2 separate regions of the Homo sapiens genome follow, and region 2 is linked to region 1. The links come from fine-mapping of genetic effects on gene expression. A gene starts in region 1. The other region holds a variant in brackets. All regions are shown on one strand. Distances are between the middles of the regions.

Region 1 (4,392 bases):
AAGGAACTCTCTGTTCCTCCTGCTCCCTTTTCGCCTCTCATCTGAGGCTTGCCACTCCGCGGACACACCCGGCGCTCGCCAAGTTGTCGCATCGCCCCCCGGTGGGGAACGCCCCTCCCTGCTCTCCGGACAATTGGAGGGAAGCACAGAGCAGCGGGGGTGTCTCCGTCCTGCCAAGGGCTGCCTGTCCCTCGCCCAGTGCGGGGAAACTGGTCCGAGAGAATGAATGGCTTTCGCCGAGCGCCGGAAGCTGACGGGCGTGGGGCGCTTCTTGCCCCCAAGCACCCGCGCCCGCGTGGGGTGTCCCTCAGCCCGGGTCTCTACTCTGAGGGTGAGAAGCGTTCGCGTCACAGCCAAGGGTTCCTTCCTCACACGTGCACCCACCCACAAGACCGGAAGGAAAGCTTCGCTTTTGCCTTCCCCCCTGCCCCCCGGCCCTCCCTACCTGAATTCCGGGACCAGGTTAGGCTGCAACCCGTAGATGGCAGAGGAAAGAGTAACCAGCCACCCGGGCTTGTAACTCCCGTTCTCGCACTCCAGATAAGGCGGAGACCACTTGAAGTGGCTCTTGTCCCCGCCGAGCCCGTCCTTGCGCCGCCAGCTGTGGCCCAGGCCCCGGGGCCCCTGATTGGGGCCGCGGCGGTGTAAGTGGGGCCTCCACTTGCGCCGGAGGCCGTGGAACCACTCGGTCTCCAGAGTGGCGTTGGCCAGGTGGGGTGCGGAGGAGGACAGGTCTTGGAGCAGGATGCGGCTCTCCTCGCGCGTGGCCTGGAGGAAGACCTGTGGGGCCGGTGCGGACAGCGAATCGGTGCTGAAGGTGATGGCCGCCCGGGAGATGCTGGGCTCGCCCTCCAGAAGGCTCCACACCAGCGCCTGGTACCAATCCAGGTCGTCCTGCAAGTTCTGCTCCCGCGACTTATTGCTCTGCAGCATCACGTTGAGGAAGTTGGTGGCGTGTGTCAGTGTGTCCAGCGCCCGGTGCAAGGAGGGGTGCGCGCTGGCCAGGGCTGGCCACTTCCCCGGCAGGCCCGCCAACTCGTAGCGGCCGGAGCAGTTGGCTCGCTTCAGCTGGTGGGAGTCCCCGGTGTAGAGGTAAGAGGCCACGTCCATGGGCACCTCCTCGGCGAGTTTCTGCGCCAAGATGGTGCCATCGGTGGAGCGGCTCCAGGGAGCCGAGGAGTCCGAGGCAGAGGCTCGACCCGGCTGCTGGGCGTGCGGCTTCCCCTTCGGGGTCCTCTCTCGAGGGGAATCCGGCCGTCCTTGGGGGTCGCGGCTGGCGCCAACAGCTCCCAATCCCAGCTGAGCAAGCAGGAGGCAGAGGAGTAAGGGGTAAGCCATGGCTCCCATCTGCCTCCCAGAGAGAAGAGGAGGGAACGGGAGGGGGGGGAATCACTTTTTAAATTTGGATCGTCAGTTTCTCAACAGTCAGACTTTTTCGAGGAGTCTTCCCCCTTCTCCAGATGGCACCCAGTCCAAAGGACTTGAAAATAAGAATGTTTCGAGATTGGCCCCGGGTGGCTAAGCTACCGTCGCAGAAATCAAGTCACCTGTGGCAGCGCTGGCCGTGCCCGCTGCGCGAGGGGCCGGCTGGGGATTACGCACCTCGCAGCCTGGAGCCGAGCGGGTTACATGGCCTCGCGCTCCCAGCGGCTGGAGTCAGCCCGAGTCCGTCTCTCGGCCCGGCTGCCGCCACCGCCGCTCTCATTGAGGCGCGTTCAGAAGCTGCTGCTGCTGCTGCCGCCGCGGCCGCCGAAGACGCTGCTCCATAGTCTCACCCGCCGCAGGTCGTTCCCGCCTCCCGGCACTGGCTCCTCCTCGACCGCTTCGCCCGGAGGCGCGGGGCGCGCGCCCAGACCCGCACCGCGAGCGCAGCCGCGACTCCCGAGGAGCGAAGACGTCCTTTAAGACGTTCGTCTGTCCGGAGTAGCGAAGGCCGGGCGGCTGGTTAATTGCAGCCTTTAGGTTTGGCCGCAAACCACACTCCACCCTCTCTCCCTGCTCCCTCCTCGGGGGAGGAAAGCCAGTTTAAAGAGGCAGCTTGGCCGCAACCAAACCCTTGTAGGGCGGCTGCAAGTCGTCTTGTTCCCTGTTTGGTCGGCTCCTCTGTCAATCAGCCGACTGCCATTTGTGGGGCCGGGGAGGGAGCTGTCCAGTGCTGAACCCGAGGCGGCCCGCGGGCGGCGGGGGCGCGGGAGGCAGCCTGCCGAGTCCTCGCACCCACTCGCGTTCCGGATGACTCGGAAACCTGCGTGGGTGGCGTAGGGTGGGCGGCAGAGGGGGGAGAAGCAGAGATTCGGTGGCTCAGAGCGAAGGAAACTTGGACGTACTGAGGGGGAGGGTGTTGGCGTCTTGCATGCTTAGTTAAATCAGCCTTTTGCCTGGAAAAGAGGGAGAAGGGAGTAGTTTTCATTTCTAGGTGAAATTAGACAGAAGGGACATAGGATGGAGACGTGTCCTCCTGAGCATCTGCTCATTTTAGGCAAATTATCAAATCATCTTTCTTGTTGTCAGTTAAAGAAATGATTAAAACATACTTGTCTAGGCTCATCTTAGCTGAGGGAGTAATGGAGAAATCTACCAGCTGTGCTTTAAGGAGAGAAAAAAAAGTCATATTTAAGGAATCTCTGCTTGGGGGCCAGAATGGAGGGGAACGTGTAAAAATGTATGCAAGTAAAGATGTGTAAGGGAGAGAGCAAGGGGGAGGACTCATGAGCTCTGGGAGAATGAGAAGGAGCCTGTGTTGAGTGAGAAGGGAAATCATCCTGACTGGGAGTTCCTGGAATTGAGAGATAAGAACTAAGACTTCTATTTAGCTAAAGGTTGGGATATCCCAGCAGAAGAAAGAAGAACTGAGCAAGTATGCCAAGTCCCCCAAATTATTGGTAAATTTCTTAACACAATCTAATTGATGTTTTGACGCTTATTAGAGAATTTAAGTGTCTTCTGACACTCCAAAAGTAGACTGGTACCAGAAAAGTAGTGTTTTGCACAGCTAGCTCCACTTTCCATATGCACCTCTATTTTCAAATTCCCCAAGAAAGACACAAATAGAAAATATCCAACTTACTTTAATTCCCAACTAACAAAAATGTCCCTCATGGCATTCTAAGCAGGCACTGCTTAGATTCACTGTACTATTTCATGTCATCCTTCCTATTGAGAAAATACTTAAGGACTGGAATGTAAGCTCCAAAAGAGCAAAAATCTTTGTCTGCATTGGTCACTGAGGTACCTTGAGCACCCAGAACACTACCTGGCACATAGTAGGCTCTGGCTAAATAGTTGCTAAATTAGTGAATGAATGGGAAGATCATGATGATGAAGCTAACTTAAAAATCAATCTCCTCACCCAAGAAGAGAAGTCTGCCTGACACACCAGTGATGAGGGTTTTTGGAAGAAGACACAGCAACCAGTTTTTCAAACCGCAGTGGTTGGTCTCCAAATGAGTTTTTATAGTTATGCAAAGAGTGGTTATTAGATTTATATTTACTTACAAGTAGATTTCATGTTCATTTCCGACTTTTTGTTTAAATTTTTCTTTGCAATGTATGCTCCTATGCTAAGTAAAGGTCATCCCGGTTTAGTGCTCTGCCACAGTATGGGTGGCAATAATAACAGAAAGAGTTTCTGCTTATTTAATGTATCAAAGTATAAACTATGGTATTCCATTTACTTAACCATCTAAAGTCCGAAGTATAATTTCCTCATTCATTGATCCTTTTAGAAAACCTATATAACTTATTAACAATTCTTTAAAATCCTCTAGTATCTAACTTAAAAGAAGACATAATTGTATTCGTAGATCCTTCTGTAAGTAATCAAATGAACTAAGCACAATCAAAAGACCTGGATTCTGGTTCTAGCTTTATTTTAAAGGAAGATATATGACCACTGGCAAGACATTTAAAATTTCTGTGTCTTGGGACACAAACTGTGTGTGGGCCTCGGGATTTCACATTGAGGTTGTACGGGGGAGGCACCTGAGCTAGTCTCCCAGGGCACCAATCCTTTCCCAAGTGCATATCTAATGAGAAAGATGCAGAATATGAGAGACTCTTGCAATTATAGTATTCCCTTCAATGGATCCCCTTCAACCTACATTGCCAAACAGCTGGGATGAGCTAGTTGGATCTAGAACAGCACTGCCCAATAGAAATACAATGTGAACCAGAAGTAGGATCCTTATAAATAATTTCAAATGTTCAAATAGCATATTAAGATAGTAAAAAGAAAAAGACTGAAATTAATTTTAATAGTAAATTTTATGTAACCCAATATATCCAAATTTTTATCATTTCAATAAGTAAACAATGTAAAAGTATTAATGATATATTTTACACTTTTTACACTAAGTCTTCAAAATCTGATTTGTATTTTACACTCACAGCACA
Region 2 (4,392 bases), 22 kb before region 1:
CTTAAATTCTACAAAACAATTAGCATTAGTTATACAAGAATACTATTATCAAATAGCTTTCTGCTTATTTAGAAGGCCAAATTTAAGAGGCATTTGTAGCTGTCTTTTTTCTCTAGCATCATTAATAATAGTTATCTTCCCAAAATATTGCCAGAAAACAATTTAAATCTATTTTCCAAGAATGTAACTATCCATAATTTCAATCATGACCTGATAGTCCTGTGATAATGTAAATTGTAAGACCTGATCCCCTCTAAAACATATAAGAGAATTTTACAGCAAGTCTGAAAGCAAGGAAATGTTCTCCTCCCCCACACCACTTTGCAGCAGACATGTCCAGAGAAGCTTGCCAAAACTTTACATAGTATTCACGTCTTCCATCTGTCTGGCTTCTTGTTCTTGGAAGTCTTTCTGGCAATCAGGTCAAGGCTTCCTTGGGAAGGTCTGTATGTTTTATGTTGCAAAATATAAGTTTGATAAAGTCAATAAATATATAATGAAGTAAGCTCAATCAGCATGGAATATCTATCCTCTACCCACAAATACAATTCTTGTGTTTTGGGGCTTCTGCAGGTTAAATGCAGCACATCTCTTAAAATTGCTAAGGTTCAAAATCTGATAATAGGTGACTGTTCCCCTGAAAAATATATCTTGAGTCTGCTGTTTTTTGCAAAGGTAGCAGACCAACATCTCATTTTTGTGGTTTTCCTTCACTATAATCATGTTTAGCTGCAATTTTATCAAACACATCCACAGGGTTCTTTAAAGAACCTCTTTGGATATGACCATTTCTGAATAGGATGAGACAATTTCTTGTCAGGGAACCCAGTGCAAGGAGGTCACTTCTATTATTGACTTGTTTAATTCAAAGAGTCCTAGGAGAGAGAGAGGAGGAAACACTTTTCTCACTTTATAGATGAAGAAAATTAGATTCATTAAAGTTTCATAACATGTCCAAAGTTATATTTTTTTGCATTGCCAGGGAAGAAGAAATAAGAACAAAGCATGTTCTGTCAGAGAAAGAAAATGTATGTGAACACTGTAATCTGCCTTAAAATATACAATGGCTGTCTCATACCTTGAGATCTAGTGATTTAATTAAACATGCCAATTGTGTTAAGATTTTACTTTAATTTTCAAGCAAAGATATATCTTCTTTGTTAATAACTTCTTAAATTTAAATACTCTTTTTTATGCTGGATCTTATTCATACGGATCTTAAAGTCAAATTACAAAGCTGATAATTTACACAGACTTTTAAATTTTAGATTTTTTTCTAGATCCTAATAGACATTATGCTAGACACCCTTAAAACATCCTCATTGAAACTGTATATGACTGATACTATTCTCCTCAATTTATATTACAACTACATATGGTCAGTATTATTCTCCCTAAATAATAGTAAGAAATTTGGGACACAAAGAGGTGAGATGGCTTCTACCTAAAGACACAGGTAATAAGTAAAAGGGCGAATGTGATATTCATATCCTAAGTATAAGGGTAAGAAGACTGGTCAGAGGGCCTAGGTTCACGTTCTTGTTTAAAATAGTGAACAGATCATATGTTTCTCTACCTCCTCCCTCCACATCCAACTGTAATGACAGGAAGTACGTACAAGAGGGAGCAAGTACAGTGAGGAGAAGTACCTGACCAGAGATTTGAAAGAATTCTCCAGGATCGTGATGATAAGCCAGGGAGGGGTGGCAGCTAAGGCTATGCTTAGCAGAAGCCTGGAGCACAGGTCGAAAATGCTCATGCAGGACAGCTTGTGTTAAGACCATAGTTGGCAGGCATCAGGAGTGTGAGTGGAAACTAAAGCAGGCATCAAGGTGATTAAATGAAGGACTTACTTCTAAACAGATACATGAGTTGCCACATCCCCTCCCTACAGCACAGTGATGGCATTTTTTCCCAAGCAAAAAATCAAGAACTCTTCTGCAGAGATTGAAAGACATTTCTGGGAAGAGTGAAAGTTTCTAGAATGGTTATTAGTTCTCCTAGAGTAAAGGTCCAGGGTGGGGCAGAGACTGCCAGCTTCTTTGTCTAGCTTCCTAAGGGGAAAGAAGCCCAATAGTCAAGGCAGAGATCTGTTGAGGAACAAGGCCTGCACATGTGTCACAAGATACG[T/C]CCCACCTAACTTTACAATTTAACCTAGTCCTTCAATCATAAAAATAATGACCAACTAAGGATCATATTTAGCAGAACTGGTGGCATAAAGGAGAACAGACATAAACAAGCAAAACAACTGAAGTTGGAACAACAATAATTCAGGGAACAAAAGAGACTTTATAGATATTTAAATTAAGATCCTCAAAGAGATTTAAGAAAATGAACAGACAACTATGAAAAATAATCCGAGAGCAAAAAAAGGGTTCATGAACATTAAGAGAAATTGCCAAAGGAAAACTATTTCAAAATAACAAAAAAAGAAAAGAATAAAATCTCTCAGAAGTTTTTTTTTTAAAGGAGAAAATGAAAGAAAAGTTAAGAAATATAGAAATCTATCCAGAAAGTCAAATATTCAACTGTAGGAGTTACAGAAAGAGAAACTGGATAGCAGAAAATAATTTATGTAATCATAAAAGAAAGTTTCTGAGTGAAAAAGTCTAAAAGGGCCCACTAAATGGCAAGTGTAATCAATAAAATGAATCACATCTAAGCACATCATCATGAATATTCAGAACCCCAAGGAAAAAGAAAAGATATTAAAAGTTTCCATAAGGAGAAAATATTACCTACAAAGGTATAATAAATCAGGTTACATCAAAGTTTTCATAAGCAACAATGAATGCTAAAAACAATATAACAATGTGTTTAAAATTCTGAGGGCAAAATGACTTTGAACCTATACTTCTGTATTCTGACTAACAGTTAGAAGACATTTTCTGGCACGGGAAGACTTAGAAATTATAAATTCTACATATCCTGTCTGAAAAATGTGTTTGAGTGTTCCATAGGGTGAAAAAAAGAAAAAGAAGAGGAAGAATTTTAGAAATAAGAAGGCTTGCATCCAACACACAGTTGTTGAACTAATCCAAAAGGTCAATAATTTGAAAAGATGTCCATGATAGTTGTTCTGCAAAAGACCTAAAGCGACTTATACAAATCACAGGACTCCAGGAATGTCTTCAATAAAAATATGAATTTTCTTTAACAAATGGAATGATTGATTTAAGAAGTTGGGCTGGCGGGGTGTGGTGGCTTATGGCTGTAATCCCAGCACTTTGGGAAGCCAAGGTGGGTGGATCACCTGAGGTCAGGAGTTCAAGGCCAGCCTGGCCAATATGATGAAACCCCGACTCTACAAAAATACAAAAATTTAGCCCAGTGTGGTGGTGCATGCCTGTAGTCCCATCTACTTGGGAGGCTGAGGCATGAGACTTGCTTGAACCCAGGAGGAGGAGGTTGCAGTGAGCCAAGATCATGCCACTGCACTCCAGCCTGGGTGACAGAGTGAGATTCCGTCTCAAAAAAAAAAGAAAGAAAGAAAGAAAAAGTTGATCTTAGAAATAAAATGACTCCTTGGGTTTTTTTTTTTAACATAATAAAAAGGCAATTAGCAACTCCAATGGGTGGGGAAAAATCTTGATGGAGATATGCACAAATAAAACGTAGCATGGTTTTAAGCAAGTGATCTAGAAAAAGATCTGGACTTTGAAATTTGGAAGATTCTTAAAATGGCAGGATCCGATTATTTATCTGTCAATTCTTAGAGGAAATTAATGGACAAAGCAGAGAATTCTTTTACTCTAGTAACAGAATACAAATGTTATTATCTTTAATTATCCAAAAATATTAGAATAGTCAACAGAGGTAGGAGGGCAAAAGAAGAAAAGAATAAAAGGTATCTAAAATTTATAGATGCAAAAATCAAAATAACCAACAGAAAAATTATAACTATAATAAAACAATGGAGAGGGTAAAGAAAGAAAGGAATATAACGAAACCAAATTCCACATTTTTCATATTGGAGAAGCTAATGATGATTTTATTTCCTAAAACTCATACTGCCAGTTTTCGATTGTGACTACTCTTCACTAGGGATAAGTCTGCCTATACTTCCTTCTCCTGTCATGCAGAATTGGCCTCCTCTAACTCCTCCAAGTCGTCTCACTTCTGGCTCTTCCATTCTTTATTTATTTATATATTTTTTGAGATGAAGTCTTGCTCTGTCACCCAGGCTAGAGTGCTGTGGTGCGATCTTGGCTCACTGCAACCTCCGCTTCCTGGGCTGAAGCAATCGTCCAGCCTCAGCCTCCTGAGCAGCTAGGACTACAGGCATGCACCACCACGCTTGGCTAATTTTTGTATTTTTAGTAGAGATGGGGTTTCACCATGTTGGCCAGGCTGGTCTTGAACTCTTGACCTCAGGTTATCCACCTGCCTCGG

The links. PIP is the estimated chance that this variant, and not a neighbour inherited with it, causes the effect. A credible set is the group of variants that fine-mapping cannot tell apart.
Region 2: its variant is the best candidate, but not a certain one, in a credible set for the expression of GPR158 in lung (TOPMed, PIP 0.54).

What each region holds. Positions count from the first base shown.
Region 1 is chr10:25,172,376-25,176,767 of GRCh38, reverse strand. It overlaps GPR158 (G protein-coupled receptor 158), which reads right to left and starts at 1,767. Exons shown (of 11, transcript NM_020752.3): 1 at 446-1,767. The coding sequence starts at 1,347. GPR158-AS1 (GPR158 antisense RNA 1) reads left to right here and starts at 492. Exons shown (of 2, transcript NR_027333.2): 1 at 492-1,092.
Region 2 is chr10:25,194,303-25,198,694 of GRCh38, reverse strand. All of the region lies in intron 1 of GPR158 (G protein-coupled receptor 158), which reads right to left. Among named protein-coding and RNA genes, the nearest start is that of GPR158-AS1, 20 kb to the right of the region's middle. The variant T/C (reference allele first, on the strand shown) is at 2,131.